Linked DNA regions of Homo sapiens: region 1 is linked to region 2. Evidence: fine-mapped expression QTL. Tissue or cell type: atrial appendage. Region 2 holds a variant in brackets; the other region holds the start of a gene. All regions are shown on one strand. Distances are from middle to middle. Region 1 holds the start of ASTN2 (astrotactin 2). Region 2 overlaps ASTN2 (astrotactin 2).

Region 1 (12,519 bases), 140 kb after region 2:
AAGAAAAACCAGCTCTCTCTCTCTCACTATAGTTAATCTTTTGTTGCCACTAGCTGGTCAGTATGAGAACGTGGGAGAGTATCAGCTCTGGAAAGGAAGCCTCCTCTAATGCTGCTCCACCCCAAGGTTAAACCCGACTCTTTTTTTCCTTTCCTGAAAAGAGCAGATTTCCTCCACCCACCCCCAAAGGCAGCTAGGGTGAGAGGCAGTGAGGCTTCCTTCTGCCCCAGAACAAAACCCATCAGCCCAGGTGCTTAGGATAGATTGGAGCCAATCAGTTGGATACTCAGGCAGGAAAACCAATTCAATTTCCCTAAGGAGATTTTTCCTTGTAGATTTTTTTTTTTTGGCAGGGGGAGAGGAAAGAGTGTCCCCCTTTATGATGCTGAACTAACTTGTAGAATCTGTGATATGTTTAAACCCAATGCCTTCTGTGAGAGGCCCAGCAATGTGATAGAAAGAGGCAGTGTGGGCTTCAAGACAATTGGGCTTAAATTTGGACTGTAGGGTAGGTTTCTTCCCTTATCTAGGCCTCAGTGTTACCATATAAAATAGAGGGGTTGAATTCAATGCCTTGTGAGTCTGTGATGCTGGGAGCCCATCAAAGTCGACGGTTGTGGTGACAGTTTTCCAGACTTCATTCAAGAGGTCGCTGTCAGTCTATCCTCCTCTCCCCACATCACACATATTCACAATGGCCTATGGCAAACAAGGCTTAGTGTATAACAAAGCAAGGAGGTGAGAAGCAGGAGGCCTTGCCAGCCAAAGGCCTAGTCAATCCTCCTGCTGCACCTGCTACAAATTAAAATCACAGAGTAATTTTGCAGACTGAGGTCCCAGTTCAGGAAAATGATCAAGCCATGGGTCATGCCAAAGCTTGCAGATCTGCCTAGGTTGGTATCACTGACCCCCCAAGAAACAGCAAATCTGGTCCACCTTGACCAAATCTAAGCCTTGCTAATGGTTGAAATGAGCTCTCCCCTCTCTCTGCCCTACACTGTCTCAATAACATAGTACTTTCTGAAGGAAGACAACGTATTTCACTCTGCCCTGAGCATTAAATAAATTTCATCGGCTTTGAGATGGAAAGAAGTGGGGTAGGGTATGGAGTGAGGGAAGTGAGTGGAAAAGAGTAGAAGAATTAGATCAGAGGCCACTAAACACCACCTCCCCCAAGACCCTTGTTTATAATGTCCCAGAAACCTAGACCATCACACCAAGATGGGAACTTGAAGTTTGACTGCTAACCAAATATCTCAATTAGCAGTAAAGGACTTGGTGACCAAATGAAGAAATAACATACATTGTTTTAATCCTATCTTTCTCTCAAGAAATCAAATTTTCTTGCTTCTCCATCCCAGAATCTTTCTCTCACACATAAGAAAAAAAAGTGGAATTGATGCTAATGAACATTCTGTGGTCAGAAACCCCTAGAGAAGACACAGCTCATGACTATTTATAAGGATTTTTTCCTCCCTCCAAAAAAATTACCATCTGCTTTGATTCAGCAAAAGGAGGTAAAAGCAAAATTGAGTAAGCACTCATTGTCCACCTTTAGAACCAAACCAGAAAGCAATAAGGGTATACAACGGTCTGCAAGGAAGTGGGTCCATTCTTCGAATGTCTGCCAAACGGAGGTCCAGTCTGTGCTTGAATACCTACAAGGTGGATTGTATTACCGTTAGGGGTCAGCATACTGGGTTGTTGGACAGCTCCAGGGGACACAGCCTCCTGTAGGGCTCAGCTCTATCCTCTCAGATCTTTCAAGACATTCGTTAGAATCAGACACCCTCCCCTTCTCCAACAGAAAACATACTCTTAATTTGTGTAGACTTTTCTTTAGGGACAGGGTCTCCCCCTGCCACACAGGCTGGAGTGCTGTGGTATGGGCACAGCTCACTGAAGCCTCAAACTCCTGGGCATAAGTGATCCTCCTGCTTCAGCCTCCCAAGTAGCCACCACACTCAGCTCATTGTTGACATTTAAAGGAAGCTTCTCCAGCCCTCTGTGGCTAAACTCCCTTCTCCCAACCATTCTTCTGGCCAGGTTCCTGGCACCTCACTCCTTCAAGGAACATTTGCTGACCTGAACAAGTTGGCATTTCAAACCGTATCTTCCTCCTTCTTCCAGGCCATCAGCTTCTTGCATAAAGCAGCCTTTGGGATGGTCCTTTGGGACCCCGCCAGCTCTACGCATGCAGGTGTACTTAACACAGACTAATGAATAGCTTTTCTTTCTTCACACTCCCTCCCCCAAATACAGATCACACGCCTCTCCTGTCAGGTTGATATGGCAAAGCAAATTACTAAAAAATGTTGACAATGAGTGCTTATTCAATTTTATTGCTTTTTCCTGCTTTTGCTGAATCAAAGCAGGTAGTAAACAGTCTTGCCTGACCACTATCAAGCACAGCAAGAAGGATGACATTTCCCTACCTGTGGGCATGAAAGCTAAATCCACAAGCAGACCCCGGGGGCTGCCTGGAGGTAAGTGAGGACTGAATGACATACAGGTTCACCTTAGAAGCCCTGGGCTGGCAGTTGTTCCTGCTCAAATTCTTTCTTTTCTATCAGTCCTTCCCACCACCCTCATGTTACCAGTAAAGGAAAACAGACAGTACAAAGCAAGAGGAGCTATCAGAGTCATGGAGTAGGTCAGGGCACTTCAAGTTCATAGAATCTTTACACGAAAGGATTATTTTAGAGCTCATCTACCCACTCATATTGCAGCAGAAAGAATTGAAGCTCTGGGGGATAAATGACTTATTCAAGGTCACAGTGAGCCAAAGCTGAGATTTCCAGATCCTAACCAGCGTTAAATTTCTAAGCTGCATTTTAGCATTCCACTTTTCCTCATTTTGCCTATTAAATCCTCCAAGGCCTAGTTCAGGTTCTTTCTGGTCCAGAAAGTGCCCCCAGTCTTCTCCAATTCTACAGAGATGCCTTCCTTCCCTGATGCTACAGAATGTATCATCTCCATCACTCATTGGCACCAATAAATAAAATGCCCTTTGACATCCAAGAGTCATGAAACTTTGAGCTGGAAGGGTCATTGGATGTCATTTAACTCATATTTCAGTTTCAAACTTACATAGGTCAGCTCACCAAGGTAGCTGAAGTTCCTTTGGAGAAAAGCTCTTGTCTAACAATCTTGATGATTGTTATCCCTCTCTATTCAGCACCATAACCTGCATAAACTTCATATTTGGTTCAGAATACCAGTTTAGCAACCTACAAGAATGTAGGTGTCTGGCAGACCAGGATTCCAGTTCCAGGTCTGCCATTGATTCCTGGCATGACTTTGGATTACGCGTTTGACCTCTCTAAAAATACTTCCTCATCTGGCAAATGGGAGTAACAGTAGAGCCCACTCCATATATGTTATGTAAATTAATAATACAAGGCAGGAAGAAAGCTCTTAGCATCACATTAAGGATTCAATAACTATTTGCTATTCTTTGATCACTTTCAGGGAGATTCACTTTGTCAATGTCATTGACTTATAATCAGATTCTAAAGAAGAATCCCAGGCAAACAAACTTTGGAGATAGTTCACAACTGAAGGAAACTTCCATTTACTTAAGGCAGGCTGAAATTTGATAGGGAGACTAGAAATACAAAAAGGAAAGGATCTGCAAAAAAAAAAAAAAAAAAAAAAAAGACTTGCTTCCAGTCTGGGCATTACCAATAACAGAAACAAAAGAGGCAGAATGGAGGGAGCCAGGGTTAAATATGAAGGTGACCTTGGTGCACGCAGATGGGAGATAGTGCATGCAAAATTACCTTGAGGTCCCCCACTGGAGTTTGAATAAACTAAGAATTCTTCTTTTTGTTTGTCCCCCTTTAATACCAGGGATGGTTTACCACCACTAATTCTGGTCCCAGGACCCAAAGTGACCAGAGGGCTTTGGTGGACACCATCACCCCCTAGTGGTAGCTCCACACTCCCCACTATTGGCAGAGTTTGGCATTTACCAACTTTGCATGCTCAGCTGTGGCACTGGCCATGTCCGTATCCCCTGAACTGATAAGCTGATAGTGAAAGCTGCCCAACTCGCCAGAGACAAACGTTAGGCAGGATGTTTAAAAGTCTGGGGATGGGATGGGGCTGCCTTGGGACACTAGAAAGAGATGGCCATAAATGTCTCATAGTATCAGCCCCAACCCCACCCCTACCACCACCCCCACCTCACCCCTCCCCCCCCCAACCCCCAGCGGGCACCAACTCTCATTTCCGGCCAGCTAGGTCCTCCCAGAACTCATTGTGCACTCTGTGTTTACACACAAACAGTGGAAGACCAACACAAATAAAAATCCCACGTCTCCCTACACAGCTCCTGCTATACCCAGCCATCTGGTGACTACCTCGCTAGCCAAATCCCCGTTGAGAGCGCCTAAAGCTGCCAGCCCAGGGCGCTAGGGGGAAAAGGAGGAGGCAAGAACCCAATCCCCCGCATGCATCCAAAAGGCTCAGCGCTGCCAAGGAGGCCAGCCCCGTGCTCTCCAAGGGGCAGAGGGTCCCAAGCTGCCAGGCTCAGGGACCGTGCATCAGAGGAGGGGGAAGTCTCCATGTGCAGGTTGTTGCCAGGAGACTCTCAAGCAACACATGGGTCCTGGGGGAATCAAGACTTCTAATTCCTCGCTCAGGTCCTCACTCAGCTTGTCCCAGGCTCACAGGCACCCATCCTGTTTGAAAGCCAAAGTTAAAAATGGCAAAGATTGTCAGTTCCAGGAATCCCGGGGCACCTATACAGATGGTTGGAGCAGGTCCTCCATATCCTCGAAGACTTGAAATGCTCTGTGGTCCTCACTGCCAAGTCAGGCCATACCCAAGGACCGTCTCATCCCTTCACTTGAATGGCCGTTTGGGGGGCGGGAGGATTTCCACCCCTCATCTCTCAGAGTACCCCGGAGTAGAGAGATCTAAAGGATGAAGGGAGAAGGTCAGGAATGGAAGTGGTAGTGAAGGGATACCTTCTGTGTCTCTAGAAAGACCCTTCCCCACGGGGAGGTGGCAAGAGCCAGCTGTGAGCCTGAGGTTAGTCCGGCGGCGCTCTAAGGAACACCACCTCCACCCTCCTTCCCTTTCTCGGACATGGGCAGCCCCACAGGTGCACGTGGGAAGAGCTACTGGTTTGTGTGTGTCTGTGTGTGTGTGCTTGGTGCGTCGCACCCCAGAAGCGCCGCCGCGGGGAGTCCCCGAGGAACCTGCAGGACGCTCCGCTGCCTCTCCTCCCGGAACGCTCGGCACGCTCAGGTTACAGCCTGCGAGGGTGGGTACAGGGGCTCGACCCCCGAGGTTCAAGCTCAGAGCGGGAGAACCACTGGCACTCGCTCAAATCCCCAGAGGTGGTAGCATGAAAGGATGGGGAGTGGGTCACAAAAATACTTTTAACAATATCAGGGCTACCAGGAGAGTGGAGCGTAGTCCGCTGATTATTCTGTGGGTCTTTTCAGGCGAGCAAGGAGTTAACCTCGGAAGTTCAGGGATCGTAAAGGTTCTCACCTGGAAGGCCCCTCACCTGCGGTGCCCGAGGCGGATCCCGCCGAGGAAAAGACCCGGGGAAGAAGAGCTCCGGGTCTGGGCGAGCCCCTGGCGCCTCACGGGCGCTGTTGTTGGCCAGACTCCGACAACCAATAAGGCCCCGCGCCCCCAAGAGGGGAGGGGAGAGCGAGCAAGCAGCGAGCGCGGGAGAGCTAAGGGGAACAACATTTTTGTAAACGCTCTCCGAGATAATTAAGCTATCAATTACCCGGGTGGGAAATCAGCTGCGCTTCCCACAGCTCCACTGAAGGGCCGACTCCTCCGGGATTCGCGCAGGGAACCAGCAGGCAGCAAGCTGCTGGCGAACTTTTCTGATTAACTTTTCCGTTGGAGCCCCCCACCCACACCCATCTCCTCTCCTCTCCTTTTTCTTGCCTTTAAGTAATTATTATTAGCCCAGGGAGTGAGCTGCAAGGACAAACCGGCTCTCTGCCTGGAGGTGGGTAGAAAGGGAAGGCGGTAACGGGGGTAGAGGGAGGCTCTAAACGTGGAGACCTCGGAGTCGGAATCCCAGTTCTCAGCAACCACTCAAGTCTCTCCAGCCCTATTTCACAGATGGCCAGAACTGAGGCTCAGAGAAGGGAAGCGACTTGGCCAAGGTCACTCAGCCCATGCGGAAGCCACGCTTTTGCGGGTTGAGCGATTCCACACGGAACTACTCCATTCCTACTCTCATGAAAATCCATCTGGAAGGGCAGAACCCGCAACTCCGAGGCGAGAGCGAGGGGGCGGTGACGGCGGGTGGCCAGTGACGGTACCCGGAGAAGTGGGAGGCTCGACCTGAAACTGGCTTAGGATCTGGGATGCTCCGGCCCCTAGCCAGAGCACCTTCAGTGAATGGGGTCTCCGGCTTCCGGGATGGATCAAGCAGAGCTCCAGGTCGGGACTGAGAGGCAGAGGGGCAGGTTCCCACTGCGGGAGGGTTGGCACGCCCCCAGGCTCCCGCCGCGCGCTCTCCAGGACCTCCTCCCACATGCTCGTTTCCAACCACCTGTGCGACCTCTGGGCCCCTCCTCTACCCTCTGCCAACCCCACTCGGGGCAGCCCCGGGCAGGGATCCCCAGGGCGCCCCCACCCGTCCGGCATGACGCAGGGGCTCGGGGTTCCTTGGGATCTAGCGCGTGCCGGCGCCCAGCCTTACCCAGGGTGAAGAAGGGCAGCTCGGTGTTGTCCAGGTCGTCCTGCACCGCGATGCGCCCCGGCAGCTCGTTACGCACAAAGAGCAGGAGGCGCGACTCGGCGGCGGTGCCGGCAGAGCCAGGAGAGCCCGGGGACGCGGCGGCGGCGGCGGCTCCGGCCCCGGTCCCAGCCCCGGCCCCGGCGCGGGCGCCGCTCCAGCCGATGTCGCTCTCCCGCAGGGCGGGCAGTGTGGACACCGTGACGGTCTTCAGCCGGCACGGGCTGTCGGGCTCCCGCGAGGCAGCGGCGGTGGCGCCGGCCAGCAGCGGCGGCGGCGGCAGCAGGAGCAGGAACAGCAGCAGCAGCGGCAGCAGTGGCGGCGGCCCCGGGTGGAAGCAGAGCCTCGGCCGCCCCCGGAGCCCCGAGCCGGGGCCGGGGCTGAGCCGGGCGCCGGCGGCGGCCATGGCGGGAGGGGCTGCGGTGCTGCGGGCGGCGGCGGCGGTGGCGGCGGTGGCGAAGGAGGAAGAGGAGGCAGCTGCGGAGACGGCGGACGCCGAAGCGAACCAGGACGCCCGAGCTAAGGAGCGGAGAGAGCCGCTCGCCAGCAGCCCCCAGCTCCGGGCTCCGCCTCCCGATCGGCCCTGGACCGCCCCCCCGCGCCGCCTCCCGGGGCCCAGCCGCCCGTCCCCGATCTCCGGCTCCCCCCGCAGACCCCGAGCGTTTCGGAGGCTCCGCCCGGCCTCGTGCAAGTCCCAGTGGCTCCCTCCCCTTTCCCAAGATCCCCCAATTCCGCCCTCACAGCATTCTTTAGCCACAACACCCCTCCCTAAACTCCCCAAATTCCTAATACTTAGGGCCCCCTCGGGCCCCCCCAAGCCCCCCTGACTCAACCCAGTTCTCCTGGCTTCACCCCACCTTCGGCTCAACCCAGAGGCTGCACCTGGGGGCGCGCCTTGGCCCAGCCTTGCTCAAGGCCCCGCCTTCTTGGGGATAGGGAGCCCCCTGGATAGCCAAGACTTAACTTTGTCTCCCCTCAGGCCCAAGAACAAGTCCTTTCTCCAATCTCCTACCCTTTTCTAGTCTCTGAAATAACTTCCTGTAGCCTCAGAGCCCCCTTCCCACCCACTTGGCCACAACTCCTGCATTCATTCTCCCACTGCCCGCAAACCTTCCTCTCCCCTCCATCCAGGCCTTGTGCTAGCACTAATTGCTAATGGACAGAGGGGCGTCGAACTCCACCGTCTAACGCCGACCCCACAACTGACTGAAGCCGGGCTGTTCTGGCCCCCTAGCTGCCGCCCTGCAAGCCAGCCCACTCACGCTTTTTTATTTTGGATCCCTGCTCCCAGCTTGGAGCAGCTCTACTTGGCTGCTTCTGCTCTCTGTGTGAAATTCCTGAAAAGGGTGTGAGGTAGAGACCTACTATTCTGTCTGTCCTTGGCTCCCGGGTCTTTTAGATCCTCTGCCCAAGTCCCAGAGAACGGGAGTGCTCACCAATTCTTCACCTGCAGTCTTTCTAGACTCAAGTTGAGCTAGGTCCTCAGATTCAGCACCCTTTGGTCTTGGGCTGACTCTGTCTCTGACCCACATACCTGAGACCCTCCAGGGAGCGGACACCTCTGCATGGGTCAAGTGCCGTGCAGCCCCTTCCCCACTCCCCTACTTTTCTTCATCTTCCCTGTCTCTGTTTTCTGTTTCATCTCTCCATTCATTTCCTTCCTTCTCATCTTGACTTTAATCTTACAAATGCTTCTTTCCTATAATTTGTGAGCAACTTCTCATCTCTGTCTAGCTTACCCATCTGCACCTTTTGTGCTGTCTCTATGCATTCACTTTTCTCTTAGCTCTTCCCTCTTCTGTCTCATTCCCCTTTTCTATCTTTAACCCTTCATATAAATTGCTTTTCTCCTCTCTCATCATATATTTTTTAATAACGTTGGATAAAGGCAGAGCACTGAAAATAAGGAAAAAAGCAAAAGCTGTTTTGCGACCTTGGACTTAATGTGTTTAAAGCATTCTCCAAATGCTAGACATGTACGTATGTTAGCTTTTTTACATGACCATAATCCAAAAAGATGGATATTATGATTCCCATTTTCCATGTGAGGAAACTGAGATCAGGTGGTCAGGGAGGTGAAGGGATTTTCCAAGGTCGTATAGCAAATGAGCTGAAGAGCTGAGGTTTGAACAGTAGGCTTCAAGCCTTGACTGTTTCCCTTAAATTACACTGTCCTCAGTGACCTTGGAAAACCCCACCCATCAAAGATGCTGTAAAAGGTAAATCTGCATAAGCACAGTTGGATCTACTTCCCTGTGAGGTTTGTAAGGTATACTTCTCCTGTCTCAGTTTACTAATCTGTGAACCCAAAGGATGTGTGGAGGTTGGGGTGGAATCTGGCCTTTCAAGTCCTCTAATTCTAAATGGTCTCCTGCCTCTCTGATGCCTGCTCTAGTTCATTTACTCCTCCAAAATATGTCACCCTGCCTCCCTCAGTCTCTCCTTTGTGTCCTTACAATCCGCCACTATCCACCGCAATGGGGCTTTCTGATTCTCTATGCCCCTTTCTTCAAATATGCTGACATAGTCCATTTACAGAAGAGCACACCAGGAAAAAAGGGCTCCCTTATGTAAGGCAGAGTCTGTGCAAGTCCTTCATGGACCTCTAGTACAAAGGCCTGTCAAATGAGACCAACACTTTCATTCATTCATTCATTCATCACCAAATATTCAGGGTGCCTACCAGGTGCTATATGGAGATGCAGGGATGGATAAACACAACTCCTGCCTTTGGAAAGCTTATAATGATTGGGGTGAGGGGGTGGGATGCCGGAAAGAGACAGGCACATAAATATCTCAGGTAATGGGCAGGCAGGCAGACATGTGTTTCCTAAGATGAGGTACTTGGAGAAATCAAAGAAAGCTTCCCAGAGGCGGTGGCTTTGGAATTGAACCATAAAGATTAGTAACAAGGGAGTGGGCATTCTAGGTTAAAGTTGGCATTTGGCATTCTTTGCAACTGCTTAGTAAATGAATAAATCCCTTTCCTACATCAGAGAATGTTTTATCTTTTAAGGCACAGCCCACCTCCCATGAAGAAGCTAACATTTCTGGATACTTTCTCAGCCTCCACTGCAGCTAGAGCTTGGGCACATGACCCAGGCTTCACCAGTTAGATTCACCCACCCCAGATGCTGAAAAATAAGCCGGAATCAGGCAGAATCCAGTGGCGGCTAAAAGGGCAATAGTTGGGGCAGTTACATCCAGGTGTCTCTGCTAGTCGAAAAGGTTCTAATAGCACTGTTTGGAGCCCAGTGATATCAATGTCAACAGTGTGAAGTGCCTTTTATTTATGCTTGGCTGCAGCTGAAACATATCTTCACCCATACAGTTCTGTGCTATGATTTGGAGTGGTGCTCTTGACTTCATGCACTTTAAACCCAGATCCCATGCCTTTCTGGAGATTCTAAGGAATCTAATAATCACTTAACTGAATTCTGAATTCTCTTTCTGCTTAAATTATTCAGGATTGCTTTCTGTTGCTTGCAACTGAAACACCTGGCTGAGAACACAGAATGTGGAAACAAAGGGAGGGCAGAGACAGCAAGGTGTATGATGGGAAATGAAGCTCAGTGAGGGGGAGAGGGAGTAACTGAAGACAAGACAGAAAAGGCAGACAAGGAGTACCAACTTTATATCACAGACAGTGTCAAATCTGGAATGTCCACAGGAAATGACTTATACTTCTGAACACATGCTCTGTGATCCAAAACTTTTTGTAGCATATCAATGAATGATGATAACAACTGTTGCCTTATGGTGGTTGTGAGGCTTTAGAAATAATTATACAAAGCATTTAACACATAATAGCTGCTCAATAAATTATAACTACTGCTTTGATGTATAATCTCAGCAACATTTGGAGCAAGGCTTTTTATCCCTATTTTATAGGTATGAAATCGGAGGCTCAGGGAAGCTGAGAAACTTGATTTTGGTCATGGAGTTATCAAGTGGTGAAATACAAGAATGCCTGGCTCCCAAATCTTTGCTCTGTCTGTCACAGAATGCCCCTCCTGGCCTCAGCCCTTTGCATGCAACTTATTCCCAGTATACTATAACTTCCCTACTCATACTCGAGTCCCCTGTCCTATGACCACCACTTTTCTCCCTCTCAGCCCCTCACACTCCTTCTCCTTTCCCCTCTTTGTTCAGTTATATTTCATTATTGATTCAATTCTTTCTCTTTTACAGTCCCCTGTACTCCCATCTTTGACTCCACTGATACAAAATTTTTTTCATTCTAACTCCTTTCCAGTCTTTCTAGCAAATACTTCCTCTTCTTTCATCTTTCATATTTGCCTTTCTAGGTAGTTTTGAAATATTTTTTCTTTCCTGCTTCCCCCTTCTCCATACTCTACTCTGTTTTAAAAATCCCTTGTATTTATGCCACCTGACTGAGGCATCCTAATGTAGTTGAAAAAGCCAGAGGCCCAAGAGGCTGGTTGATTTTCGTTTAGAAATCATCTTTGCTATTTCTCTATGGAGTCAAGTCACTTTATAGTTCCTACTAGGTCTTTTCTTTTCTCATTTGTGAAATGGGGAAAGTAGTACCCACTTCTCAGGATCACTGTGTGAATTAAATGAGATGATGTGTATGAAACTGTCTAGCACATATGAGGCTCTCTTGAATGTTGTAAGTAAATCCAATCATCTTACGGATCTCACCCACTGTTTTCCACTCCAGCCTCATGTCCCATAATCCCCACCACCACCACTTGATTCCAACCATATTGATCTCTTTTCTGTTCCCGAAATACTTCAAGCTCTTGTTGCCCCAGCATCTTCAAACGGACTCTTTCTTCTGCCTGGAGAGACCTCCCTCCGTCTTCACTAGCTATCTTTTGCTAGTCTATAAGTTTTGCTAATCAAAGCACTTTCCCTAACGTGACCACCCACCCAGCCTAAGTTAGCCTCTTGCTGTACTTTCTGTTACATCCTTTCATATTTCTTTATAACCATTTTAATTGTACTCATTCCATATTTCAATAATTGTCCATTTATTAGAGCATTTTCTTGGTGCGTATGTTCCTTACTAGATTGGGAGCTGCCAGATATCAAAGACCAACTATGTCTTGCTTACCGCAGTGTGCACACCAGCTAGTACAGTAACCTACATAGGGTAGAGATGCAAAATAAGTATTTTGCCAATGAACCATCACATATTTATTGAATTTTTACTGAGACAGGCACTGTTTTCGCATTAGCTGCACTTTCACAGAGAATATAATTTAAATTTTACAACAAAAACCTTCCCCCATCCTCCGTCTGTCAATTCTTCCTTCCCTTCTTCCTTTCCTTTCCTTCTTTCCTTCCATCCTCCCTTCTCAGCTTCCCATGATTCAAGTAATTCTTTTTAACAGTCTTTCTTCTTAAGCCTCCAGATGATCTCTAGAACATAAATAAACTCTAATTGAGGAAAAGAGAGTGCCATCTTCTGCTCCATCTCTGCTCTATCTAAGCTCAATCTTCCATCAATCCTTTTCCTGTCCACGAATCTCCACCATTTGTTTTCTCTTGTTCAATCACTGCCTTCTCCGTAACTCATATTGTCCTTTTAATCGTGCTTTGCTCTCTGCAGCATGTTGACTCCATTTATCACTCAGCGTATCCCATTTCTCTTCATTCCCTTCAGTCACCTTGCTCTAGACACTCTCTTGACCTGAGTTCTGCCAACCTCTTAGCATCTTGACCTATGCCGAACTCAGCACCGTCATCTAGTTTGGCATCAGTGACAAAACTAAGGTCAATCCTGAAGCTTTTATTTTTATTGTTGCAGGATCCAAAATACACTGCTGTAA
Region 2 (12,519 bases):
TTAACTTTTGTCAACATAGAGTTGATTCGTGAAAGTATAAATGGTCCTCATTGACCCATACATGAAAATCCTTGTTTTCTAAGATCTTCTCTTCAAAGCTTCTCACTCAGCTTTGAACAGATACTTTCAAATGGACACTCACGGCATTTTATCAGGAAGATGAGAAAATGTTATTTTAGCATAGCGGCTACTAGCACAGACCTGGGATTCCCACATCCTGGACTTGTATCAGTCCATTTTTATGCTGCTGATAAAGACACACCAGAGACTGGGAAGAAAAGGAGGTTTAATTTGACTTACAGTTCCACATGGCTGGGGACACCTCATAATCATGATGGAGGGTGAAAGGCTCTTCTTACGTGGTGGCAGCAAGAGAAAATGAGGAAGAAGAAAAAGCAGAAACCCCAATAAACCCACCAGATCTCATGAGACTTATTCACTGTCATGAGAATACCATGGGAAAGACCAGCACCTATGATTCGATTACCTCCCCTTGGGTGCTCCCACAACATGTGGGAATTCTGGGAGATACAATTCAAGTTGAGATTTGGGTGGGAACAAAGCCAAACCATATCATTCCGCCCCTGACCCCTCCAAATCTCATGTCCTTACATTTCAAATCCAATCATGCCTTCCACAGTCCCTCAAAGTCTTAAATCATTTCAGCGTTAACTCAAAGTCCACAGTCCAAAGTCTCATCTGAAACAAGGTAAGTCCCTTCCACCTATGAGCCTGTAAAATCAAAAGCAAGGTAGTTACTTCCTAGACACAATGGGGTACAGATATCGGGTAAACACGGCTGTTCCAAATGGGAGAGATTGGCCAAAACAAAGAAGTTACAGGGCCTATGCAAGTCTGAAATCCAGCAGGGCAGTCAAATTTTAAAGCTCCAAAATGATCTCTTTTGACTCCAGATCTCAAATCCAGGTCACGCTGATGCAAGAGGTAGGTTCCCAACGTCTTGGGCAGCTCCACCCCTGTGGCTTTGCAGGGTATATCCTCCCTCCCAGCTGCTTTAATGGGCTGCCATTGAGTGTCTGCAGCTTTTCCAGGTGCACTGCACAAGCTGTTGATGGATCTTCCATTCTGGGGTCTGAAGGATGGTGGCCCTCTTCTCACAGCTATACTAGGCAGTACCCAAGTAGGGATGCTCTGTGGGGGCTCCAACCCCACGTTTCTCTTCCACACTCCCATAGCAGAGGTTCTCCATGAGGGCCCTGCCCCTGCAGCAAACTTTTGCCTGGGCTTCAAGGCGTTTCCACACGTCTTCTGAAATCTAGGCAGAGGTTCCCAAACCTCAATTCTTGCCTTCTGTGCACCTGCAGGCTAAACACCATGTGGAAGCTGCCAAGCCTTGGGGCTTCAACCCTCTAAAGCCACAGGCTGAGCTGTACATTGGCCCCTTTCAGCCACGCTGGAGAGGCTGGGACACAGGCACCAAGTCCCTAGGCTGCACACAGCACAAGGACCCTGGGCCCAGCCCACAAACCACTGTTTCCTCCTGGGCCTCTGGGCCTGTGATAGGAGGGGCTGCTGTGAAGGTCTCTGGCATGTCCTGGAGATGTTTTCCCCATGGTCTTGGGGATTAACACTAGGCTCTTTGCTACTTATGTGAATTTCTGCAGCCAGCTTGAATTTCTCTTCAAAAAAATGGGTTTTTCTTTTCCACTGCATCATCAGGCTGCAAATTTTCTGAACTGTTATGCTGTTTCCCTTTTAAAGTGGAATGCTTTTAACAGCACCCAAGTCGCCACTTGAATGCTTTGCTGCTTAGAAATTTCTTCTACCAGATACCCTAAATCATCTCTCTCAAGTCAAAGTTCCACAAATCTCTAGGGCAAGGGCAAAATGCTGCCAGTCTCTTCACTAAAACATAACAAGAGTCACCTTTGCACCAGTTCCCAACAAGTTCCTCATCACCATCTGAGACCACCTCGGCCTGGACCTTATTGTTCATATCACTATCAGCAGTTTTGTCAAAGCCATTCAACAAATCTCTAGGAAGTTCCAAACTTTCCCACATTTTACTGTCTTCTTCTCAGCCCTCCAACTGTTCCAATCTCTGCCTGTTACCCAGTTCCAAAGTCGCTTCCACATTTTCAGTTATCTTTTCAGCAACTCCTCACTCTACTGGTACCAATTTACTGTATTTTTAGTCCTTTTTCACATCGCTGATAAAGACATACCTGAGGCTGGGAAGAAAAGGAGGTTTAATTTGACTTACAGTTCCACATGGCTGGGGATGTCTCTTAATCATGGTGGAGGGCAAAAGGCACTTCTTACATGGCAGTGGCAAGAGAAAATGAGGAAGAAGCAAAAGTAGAAACCCAATAAATCCACCAGATCTTGTGAGACTTATTCACTATCATGAGAATAGCATGAGAAAGATCAACCCCCATGATTCAATTACCTCCCCTTGGGTCCTTCCCACAACACATGGGAATTCTGGAAGATACAATTCAAGTTGAGATTTGGGTAGGAACACAGCCAAACCATATCAGGGCTCTAGTCTGAGCTCCATCCATTCTAGTAGAAGAGTTTTCCCTCCTGAACCTCAGTTTTCTCACAGGTAAAGGTTAGTTAACAACAGCCTTCTCAATGGAGTGCTGTAGAGATTAGATAAGGGACGAGTGTGTGAAGTGTTTAGTGCTATTCTTGGGACATAAAAAAGACTCAGGATATGGTATTATTAATAACAAAGTTTTACTGATGCACAAACAGCAGCAGCCAAAAAGACGGGGCCATGCACATGAGCACACAGAAGCAGAACAGGATGGCTCAGGTGTCCATTTTCATTGCCCATTCCTCCATGCCACCTGCTCTAATATATACCCTTTCACATGGTGTTAAAGGATGAAAAACGCATTTGCTTAAAATCCATCTGCTTTTTATAACTTCCAGAGACCAAAATCTGCACAAGCAGCAGTTCTTTGTGGCTCCTAATTAATTCCTAAACAAAGACTGCTCTGGCAGCAGCCCAGTTTATCAAACCAATTGACCTCCTGGTGCAGAAATGATGACACAGATGTTGTTGCTATGTCACAACCTCATTTTTCACTTTGCATCACTTGGTCAGGCCAGACATATCTTCACCTTCTGAGGAGTAGAAGATAGTCCCCTGGGTGACTCTGAGACCCTAATTGTTATCTCCCATGGTTATGGGCCTTTCTCCACTCAGGCGCCTCCCAACAAAAGTCTGGAGTGGAGGTCTGGTGTGGTAGCTCACGCCTGTAATCCCAGCACTTTGGGAGGCCAAGGCAGATGGATCATGAAGTCAGGAGATCGAGACCATCCTGGCTAACATGGCGAAACCCCGTCTCTACTAAAAATACAAAAAAATAGCCGGACGTGGTGACATGTGCCTGTAATCCCAGCTACTCAGGAGGCTGAGGCAGGAGAATCGCCTGACTCTGGGAGGTAGAGGTTGCAGTGAGCCAAGATCGCACCACTGCACTCCAGCCTGAGCAACAGAGCGAGACTCCGTCTCAAAAAAAAATAGTCTGGGTTGGAACAGGCCAGAAAACATCACCTGTCTTTGGTTAATCTGAGGGCTTCCCAAGCTAAGGAATCTCTAATCTGTAGGGTTCTTGGGAGGCTACCAGTAATAATAATCACAGTGGCCATGAACCCAGTGTCTATTATGTGCCAGGCACTCTCCTGTGCATTGTGCCTGCTTTATCTCATTTCATTCCACACAATCTTTGAAGATATGAGTTAGCATCTTAAATTCAAAGTCAAGAAAACAGAATATTGGAGATATGAAGAAAGGCTTCACAACACTGGAGGTGCCATGGCACTTCGTATAGGTGAGTTACCAAGAACTTCTTTCAAGTTATCTCATCAAGGCCTCACTCCATCACTGTAAGGTTCTGACAGGTTAGACAACTATTTCCAGGTCATACAAGTAGTAGGCCAAGAAATGGTCTTCAAAAGGGGTGGGCCTTTCCTCTGAGTTAGTTGTTCTTCCAATTGGATTAGGAACTCACTCTTATAACCCCAGATAACCTTATTACCTCCTTAAAGGCCATATCTCCTAATACAGTCACGTTAGGGGTTGAGCTTCTTAATCAATATGCTAATGAAGACAGCATGGGCTCAAGGCTGAATCTAGGTTTTGGGTGGTTGTGTGACCTTGAGCAATCTCAGGCTTTTCATCCAGAAAATGAGTATATTCTTACACATTTCATCTGTGAATAATCATTAACCACCAAAGTTCTTGCCATTGTATATCAAAGACTGCCTTTCCTCTATTCTCCAATATCATCTTCCTCATTTCCATCAGAAACCTCACCACATGCACCTTTAGCATCCATTTTTTCTATCAACAGTGTTTTCAAAGCAACCTAGGCTTTTCCAACATGCACTTCAAAACTCTTTGCGGCCTCTACCCATTACTTAATTCCAAAGCCACTTTCACATTTTTAGGAATTTTTTTTACAGAAACACCTTACTTCACAGTACCAAAATCTGTATTAGTCTGCCCACACTGCCATCACAGCATACTAAAAACTGGATGGCCTCAACAACAGAATTTTATTTTCTTACAGTTCTGGAGGCTGGAAGTCTAACATCGAGGCACCAGCAGGATTGGTTTCTGGTAAGGCTTCTGCTGGCTTAGAGATGGACACCGTCTTGCCCTGTCTTCCCATGGCCCTTTCTCTGCTGTGGGTGTGCTTTCACTGATGTCTTTTATCTCTCCCTCTTTTTTTTTTTTTTTTTTTGAGACGGAGTCTTACTCTGTTGCCCAGGCTGGAGTGCAGTGGTGCAATCTTGGCTCACTGCAACCTCCGCCTCCCAGATTCAAGGGATTCTCCTGCCTCAGCCTCCCAAGTAGCTGTGATTACAGGCATGTGCCACCATGCCTGGCTAATTTTTGTATTTTTAGTAGAGACAGGGTTTCGCCATGTTGACCAGGCTGTTCTCACTCGAACTCTTATCCTCAAGTAATTCGCCTGCGTTGGCCTCCCAAAGTTAGTGTCTCTTCTCATAAAGACACAAGTCCTGTTGGATTAGGAGCTCACTCTTATAACCCCAAATAACCTTAATTACCTCCTTAAAGGCTGTATCTCCTAATACAGTCACATTAGGGGTTGAGCTTCAACATATTAATTTGCAGGGGAACACAATTCAGTCCATAATATCTGCCATTCTGACTGAAAACACCTGCTTAATATATTGTCAGGAGATTTTAATGAAATTTTAAATGGGATCATGTTCTATTAATGTTAGTTGGTCAAGAGCATTTGAGCTTCAAGAACAGCTACAATTTATTGAGAAATTTCTATTTATCAGGCACCAAGTCTGTACTTAACATGGATGCTTCCATGCCTCACAATGATTTTATTTGAGAAGGTATTATTGTTGGCACTACTTTACATTTGAGGAAACCAAGGCTCAGGAGAAGGCAAGTAGCTAGCCCAAGATCACACGGTTATCAAAAGGCTGAGAGATCCCGTCCAACAGACTCTCCTCTCCCATACTAGGCTGTTGCAATCATTCTGATGGCCCAGACCTTCCCTGCAAGTGGGAATCCTTCACCTGAGAACATCTGCTACCACAAGAGAGAGGAACTGACCCTCATCTCCCCCCAGACAGCCTCTGGTGACTTTACACACCATCTAAACAAAGCCTCTGGCACAGCCACCAACATATTTCACTC[C/T]CTATTAAGGAAAGCTGAGACAGGGCAGGCCTCTGGACACTTCATTAGGGGAACATCAGGACACATAAGGACTGTAATAAAACAGGAACCGAAGAGGGTGTCCATGGGGAAAGCCCGGAGCTGCTTGTGCTTGTACCCCTGCAGAATTTTAGAGGAGGAAGGGAGGGCTGAGGGCACAGAGAGACAAGGGCGGGGGAGAGGGGGATGAGATAAGGCTGCCATGGGAAAGCAAGAGCTTTGCTGCCAACAGAGCAAACACAGGATGTGGATCCCAGCTCAGTCTCTCCCTAGCTGTGTGGTCTTGGGCAAGGCCATTTCACTTGATGTACCACAATGATCCAATCCATAAGATGGAGATATCAATGCTTGCCAGGTGGGATTTTGTGAGAATTAAATAATAATTTTAAAAATTAGCATGTTAAGGCTGTGACTTTCCCCCTAATGGTTTCGATGAACTGTAGGTGGACATGAGGGCGATCTGGCTGCAACATCTGTCACTCCATTGACCTCCAGGGTTGATTCAGCTGATCTGTCTGGCAAGGGAGGTGTCCTCTTCCCCCCTCACTGCTCTATGTGTGTCCCTCCCAAAGCTGTATGCTCCGTTGAAGAGGATGGCCATCCCCAATAGAGGAGGACTGTTTTTTGGTCAAGGGCATACAGTAGCTGCACGCCCCTGCTAGAACCTCCAAACAAGCTTTCAGTGAGCTGTAAGTTTATGATTCTCCACCTTTGTAAATTCCCCAAAACCTCTAATTGGTGTTCAGATCAGGCATACATAGGGTAAGGTTCAGGAAACTATCTTTTAAACAAACACACAAGAGAATTCTTTTTGTTGTTGGTAGTGGTAGTAAATTTATTCTTGAAACCATTTCAATGAGATATATTAACATGTAAAAAGCTGTGCATATTTAATGTATATAACTCAATGAAATGGAACCTTGGTGCCCTGTTAGTGGGAATGTACATTGGTACAGCCATTATGGAAAACAGTAGATAAATTCCTCAAAAAATTAAAAATGGAACTACCATATGATCCAGAAATTTCACCCTAGGTAATTCTTATGTAGGAAGAAAATCCTGCTCCACACCTAGTGAAATACCAACAGTAAACAGGAGAAAATAATATCAGGCAATTTTTAAACCTCCTAGTAATAGTGGTAGTGCAAGGACTTTAGAATCATGACACTTGGTTACCAATATTATGTTGCTTATGTAGGATGAAATATATATTATCTATGGATTTTAGTCTCCTCCTAGGTGATCTGGGTAAACTACCCTAAATAACTGTTTCAAGAAATAAGTAAAATAATGCACATAAACTTCCCTGCATATTCCCCACCATATGGTAAGTGCTCGGTATTATTTCTCTGATAGATTCATTTTCACCTAGCTCTTGCAAATGACTTGTAATAATCCCTCAACTGTGGAAAACATAGACACAAAAAAATTTTCTACCTCAATTCCAACCTCACATTTTGTTTAATAAAGCAATTTACAGGGGGTAAAAATAATTAGTGGTTTTAAATGCTTTAATACAAGCAGGCGCTGTAATCATGATAAATCATCTCTGACATATGCCCAGCTCCTCCAAGTGACAGATGACAAACAAAAGCAGGACAAGGTCCTCCGTCACAGGCGGAATCATTGAATTAATGGAAGAATTATTGCTTCTGAAATCCACTCCAGTCCTATTGAGGAGAACGTTCCAATTTATCAAAGCCAAATGAACATTAATTGCAGCAGTCTGGTAAGTTTTCCAGCCACTATGACCTTCATTGAATTTTAATCCAAAACAGATAAGATTTCCTTCCACACAAGAGGAAACAACACAATTAGCTCAAAATGACAGCTAGATTATGAAGCAGGCACACACAAACAACACACACACATTCACACTCACGCACACTCCCAGTGAAAATATTGATTCTACTTGACTTAAAATTCAGCACAAAGGAGGTGAGCAGAGAAAAAGGTAAATAAATACCATCACCACATCTGCCTAACCCCTTCCCCCTCTTCATTCAGGAGAGAAATTTTAGAGGCGGAAGCCAAGATGGAGAAGGTGGCAGGCAGTAATGGAGACAGAATTTCTGTTAACTGCTGTAATTAATGTTATGTCTCATCAGGGAGAGATTAGGAAAAAACAGAGAAGGAAGGAAGAAAAAACAAGTGTTATTTTGCTATTAAAGACGCCCTTGAGCTGGGAACATTAGCAGCCGAAGTTTGAATTGGGTAATTGTTTGACTGTATCGGTGGATTTGCAGACAGGATTACCACAGTGAAGTGAAATGTAGTTGCGCTGAACCTACAGCGTGAGTGGCTCCCTCAGCATGGAGCAAGGGGCCTTCTGCTGGGTGCAGTTTATAGCCTGACACAGGCACACTGCCCTGAGATTTAGATGGGAAGGCCAGCTCTGTCATCAACCTGCTGTAAGACATCGTGAGTCACCCTTTGAGACCTAAAAGCTTTGTTTTTGTATTTATTTTCACTCTATTAAAGGGGTTGAACTGGAGTTTTTAAAACGCTTTTGTTTTTTGAGAATTAAATCAGAAATTTCTGTTTTCATCAATTCTAAATATCTGTGGCCAGAAAGAACTGGCTGCCTTCTTCCATGGTCCAGGGTCAGGCTTGCCTCAATATCTCATAGTCTCGTAATTGGATGATTATGGAGATGAGCTCCTAAAAAGTCCTTATCCATCCTTGCCCCCTATAAGAAAGGAAATATTATACAGCAGATGGAGCAGAGAGCTCATTTGGAACTAGAAATATATGTTTAATTCTGGGCTCGGACACTGGCTATGTGATCATACTAGAGAGTTGTCTTAACCTTCTAGACCTTGGTTTTATCATTTGTGAAAACGGAACAGTAAAAACAGCAATATCAATAGTATCATTAATACAACATTTGTATAGAGTTTGCATATTTACCAACTTTTAACTGTAGAAACTATTACTCTCACCATTTTACAGTTGAGAAGACAGAGGCACAGAGAAGTTAAGTAACTTAACCAATGTCACTCTACAAGTTACGTGGTGAGGCCAGGATTCCAATCCAGGCAGTTCTGTCCCAAAGTCAACATTCTTGTTTTGGGTTTTAGCCTTTTTATTTTGAAAGAATTATAGACTCACAGGAAGTTGCAAATTTAGGAGAGAGCTCTTGTGTACTCTTCACTCAGCTTCCCCCAATGTCAACATTTTTCATAACTATAATAAAATAATGAATACCAGGACATTAACCATGATTCAACACTATTAACTAAACCACAGACCTTATACAAGTTTCACAAATGATGCCTCTTCCAGCTTATGGTAGCTCTTGGTTTTCCTTGGCTTGGGCTACATAATGCTCATTTCTCTCTCCATCTTCATACCATCTTCCCCTGTGCCTTCTCTTCCATGTGTCTCTCATAAGGACTAATTTTTTTAATTTTTTTCACTAATGTCCTTGTTTTTCCACTAATGTTTTTATTTTGGTCCAGGATCCCACATTGCATTTAGTTGTCATATCTCCCTAGTTTCCTCCAATTTGTGACAATTACTGTTTTCCTTGTTGTTGTTTTTGTTGTTTATGATCTTAACACTTTTGACCATTGCTTGTGAATTATTTTGTAGAATGCCCATCATTGGGTTTGTCCATATTTTTTCATGATTAGAATGGTTATACATTTTTGGCAAGAAACCCACAGAAATGACATTGTCCTTATCAGTGCATTACTTCAGTGGATTCATAACGTCAATGTGTCTGATGAGTGAGGATGTTAATTTTGATGACTTGGTTAAGGTGGTGTGGTCAGTTGAATAGTGGGTCCCAGAAAGATATGCCCACACCCTAATCCCTGGAGTTTGTGAATGTTATCTTATTTGGAAAAAAGGGTCTTTGCAGATGTAATTGAGTAAAAAAATCTTATGTATAACAATCTGAGTTATCAAGGTGAACCCTAAATCCAGTGACAAGCATCCTAATGAGAGGCGCATGGAAGAAAAGACACAGGAGAATGTAGTATGGAGGCGGACGTAGAAATTAGCGTTCAATAGCCCAAACCAAGGAAAACCAAGAGCTACCATAAGCTGGAAGAGGCAAGACAGGATTCTCCCTTCGAGCCCCAGGGAGAGTGTGGCCCTGCCAACACCATGATTTCAGACTTCTGGCCTCCAAAACTGTGACAGAATAAATTTCTGTTGTCTTAAGCTTCTTAAATTATGGTAATTTGTCACGGCAGCCTTAGGAAGCAAATACAAGTGGTATCGGCCAGATTTCTCCACTGTAAAGTCACTATTTTCCTTCTGTAATTAATAAATGTCTTGGGGGGAGACACTTTGAGACTCCACAAATACCCTATATCTTCTCAAAATTTCACCATTAATTTTAGTATACATCAGTGGATCTTGTCAGTAGTAATTATTACAGTGGTGATTGCCTAATGGTGATTTTCTGTTTCCCTCTTTCCTTCTACATTTATTAACTGGAATTCTACTGTAAGAAAGAGCAATCTTTTCTGCCCCATTTATTTATTTAGTCAATTATTTATATCAGTATTTTAAAGTCAATATTCTTAATAACCTCCCAACATAGCTCAAAGGATGTTTGTGAAGGCCAAGAACGATAACAGAGTAGGAAGAATATTTTTAGAGGCCAAAGGAGAAGAAAGGGACCTTCCCTGGGCACCTTGCTGATGCTTCATGAGCCTTTTATCACTTATTCCTCCCCTCAGCCCCATGAATGTGGATCTCTCGCCTCATTTACAGCTCAGGAGAAAGTGAGGTTCAGAAAGGTTCAGTAATGTGCCAAAGGACACACAGCAGTAAGGGAAAGAATCACAGTTTAAGTCCTCATCTGTCTTGTCTCCAAAACCACGTGATTCCCACCAAATCAAGCTATGCTCTGAAGACTGGGAAGGAGGGAGAAAGGTGGATTAATTGAAGGGAGAGGCAGAAGTTCCAATATATCCAAATCAAAGCTCACTTTCCATTTTTACTGTGGGCTTATTTGGGGCATATGAGAAAGGGAGTAAACAGCGTGAACCTCACTGCAAATGTGCTCACAGCATTCATTTTGTGTTGCTGTTAAAATACCACACAAAAGCCCCAGGTTCTTGAAGGGGAGGAAAATGTGGAACAGGAGGCTGGGGCAGAGGAAGTTGGGAATGGTCACCAAGGGGACACACGCCCTGACTCTCTTGCCAACCTGTCCGCCCCTCCCCACTTTACTTCCCTGCAGTCTCTGGATCTCCCCTCTCCTTCCCTTCTCCCAGACTCCCTGTTGCAATCCAGTCCACCCTGCCCTGCCATGGCCTCTTCTCAGATCCACAGTGCTGGGTGCCCCTGCCTCCAGCCCTCTCATCTCTGCTGGATGCTGTCTGGGCTTGATTGCCTCCTCAGCCTCGGATCACCCCGATTGCCCGCCCTTCACTCCATCTACCTCGCTACCCGACTCCCAGCCCTTTCTTGAGGTTGAGTTCCATCTGCTTCTCTTACTCGCTGTCTCTCTCTTTTCCTGTTCTCTTCTCTCTGTATCACTTCCTCCATGCTTTTTATTCTCTGTTTCATTTTCCCCCATCTCTGCTTTTGTTGCTAAATCCCTTTCTGTCTGTTCTTGCCAATTCTCCTTTATTTTTCTATGTCTCTCCCATCCTTGGTGCCCCATTCTCTCAGTTTCTTCTTTATTTCTCTCCGTCTCTAGTAATTTCAACGTACCTAGTATAGAATAGTTTCTCAATCAACATGGGTTGGATGTTTCTGTCGGTATTTTCTTCTGCTTCCCTCTGTCCATATTATATATACATAGCTATAGCTATACACGTTCTTATTCTGCATTGTGCTTTGGCCAGGAGGTTCAGTGGAACTGCCTTCAGGCCCTTTTCCTGAGCTGCCTCTTGCCATCTCCAAGATACCCTTGTCAAACTTTTCCATCTGGGCTTTATCATTGGCCCACACTAATGGGACAGGGATGAAGAACATCCATTCTCCAGCTTCATTTTCCCCATCTACAACATGAAGGTGGGGTACATTCTATTGCTGTGGCAATTGCTTGCATGTGCACCCCCTGTAAAAGAATTGCACACCCCTGCCATTGGCTCTGGGCTTGGCCATGTGATGTGCTTTGGCCGATAGAATGTGAGAGAACCCACATCTGAGCATCAGTTTCAAGAGGCATCCTATATTTTTGCCAGCTCTCTTGCTCATTCCCTCTGCCATGAAAACCAAATGTTTCAAACTGGGGCTCCCCTTCAGCCAAAGTACCAGAAGGAGAAGACAAGCAGAGCTGAGCCTGCAGTGACTGCAGCTGCCGATGTGTAAGGTGCATGAGAAGTAAAGCATGGTGTGGCCAAGGCACTATGATTTAGAGTGGTCTGTTTGCAGAATAAACAAGCAAGAGCTGACTAGCCTGGAAGAGTTGGATATTCTATGAGGTCTCAGGTGTTTTCAGCTCCAAGATCCCACTATATTTCATACTTCTACTGTTTTTTTTTTTTTTTGGAAACTCTTGCTAAATGGTTTTATGTGCATTAAGTTTGATGTTATGATTTTAATTTTATTTCCATTTTGCAAATGATCACACAAGAAACTCAGAGAGGTGAGATGACTAGCCTGCATTTCTATAGCCGGTATGTGGAAGTCTAAGCTTGAAACCAGGCCTCCTGAAGCCAAATTCCATGCTCATTCTACTTCGCTATGGTGCATCTCTAAATGTTGTGAAAAATAAGCATTTCCTATATTTCCTACACATGGAAGCTATGGCTTATTTTCCTACTTTGCCCACAGGCCTAGCTAGAGACCCTGCAGGCTTTTAGTGAAACCATGTTGTTGAAGCAAGTCAAGACCAAGCCACAAGGTTCATGTGACTTAAAATTTTAAAGTAT

The links. PIP is the estimated chance that this variant, and not a neighbour inherited with it, causes the effect.
Region 1: ASTN2 starts here. The variant in region 2 is fine-mapped to the expression of ASTN2 in atrial appendage (GTEx, PIP above 0.99).

The regions. Positions count from the first base shown.
Region 1 is chr9:117,407,812-117,420,330 of GRCh38, forward strand. ASTN2 (astrotactin 2) reads right to left here and starts at 7,246. Exons shown (of 23, transcript NM_001365068.1): 1 at 6,686-7,246. The coding sequence starts at 7,127.
Region 2 is chr9:117,270,863-117,283,381 of GRCh38, forward strand. All of the region lies in intron 2 of ASTN2 (astrotactin 2), which reads right to left. It also overlaps the pseudogene RN7SKP125. Among named protein-coding and RNA genes, the nearest start is that of SNORA70C, 96 kb to the left of the region's middle. The variant C/T (reference allele first, on the strand shown) is at 5,660.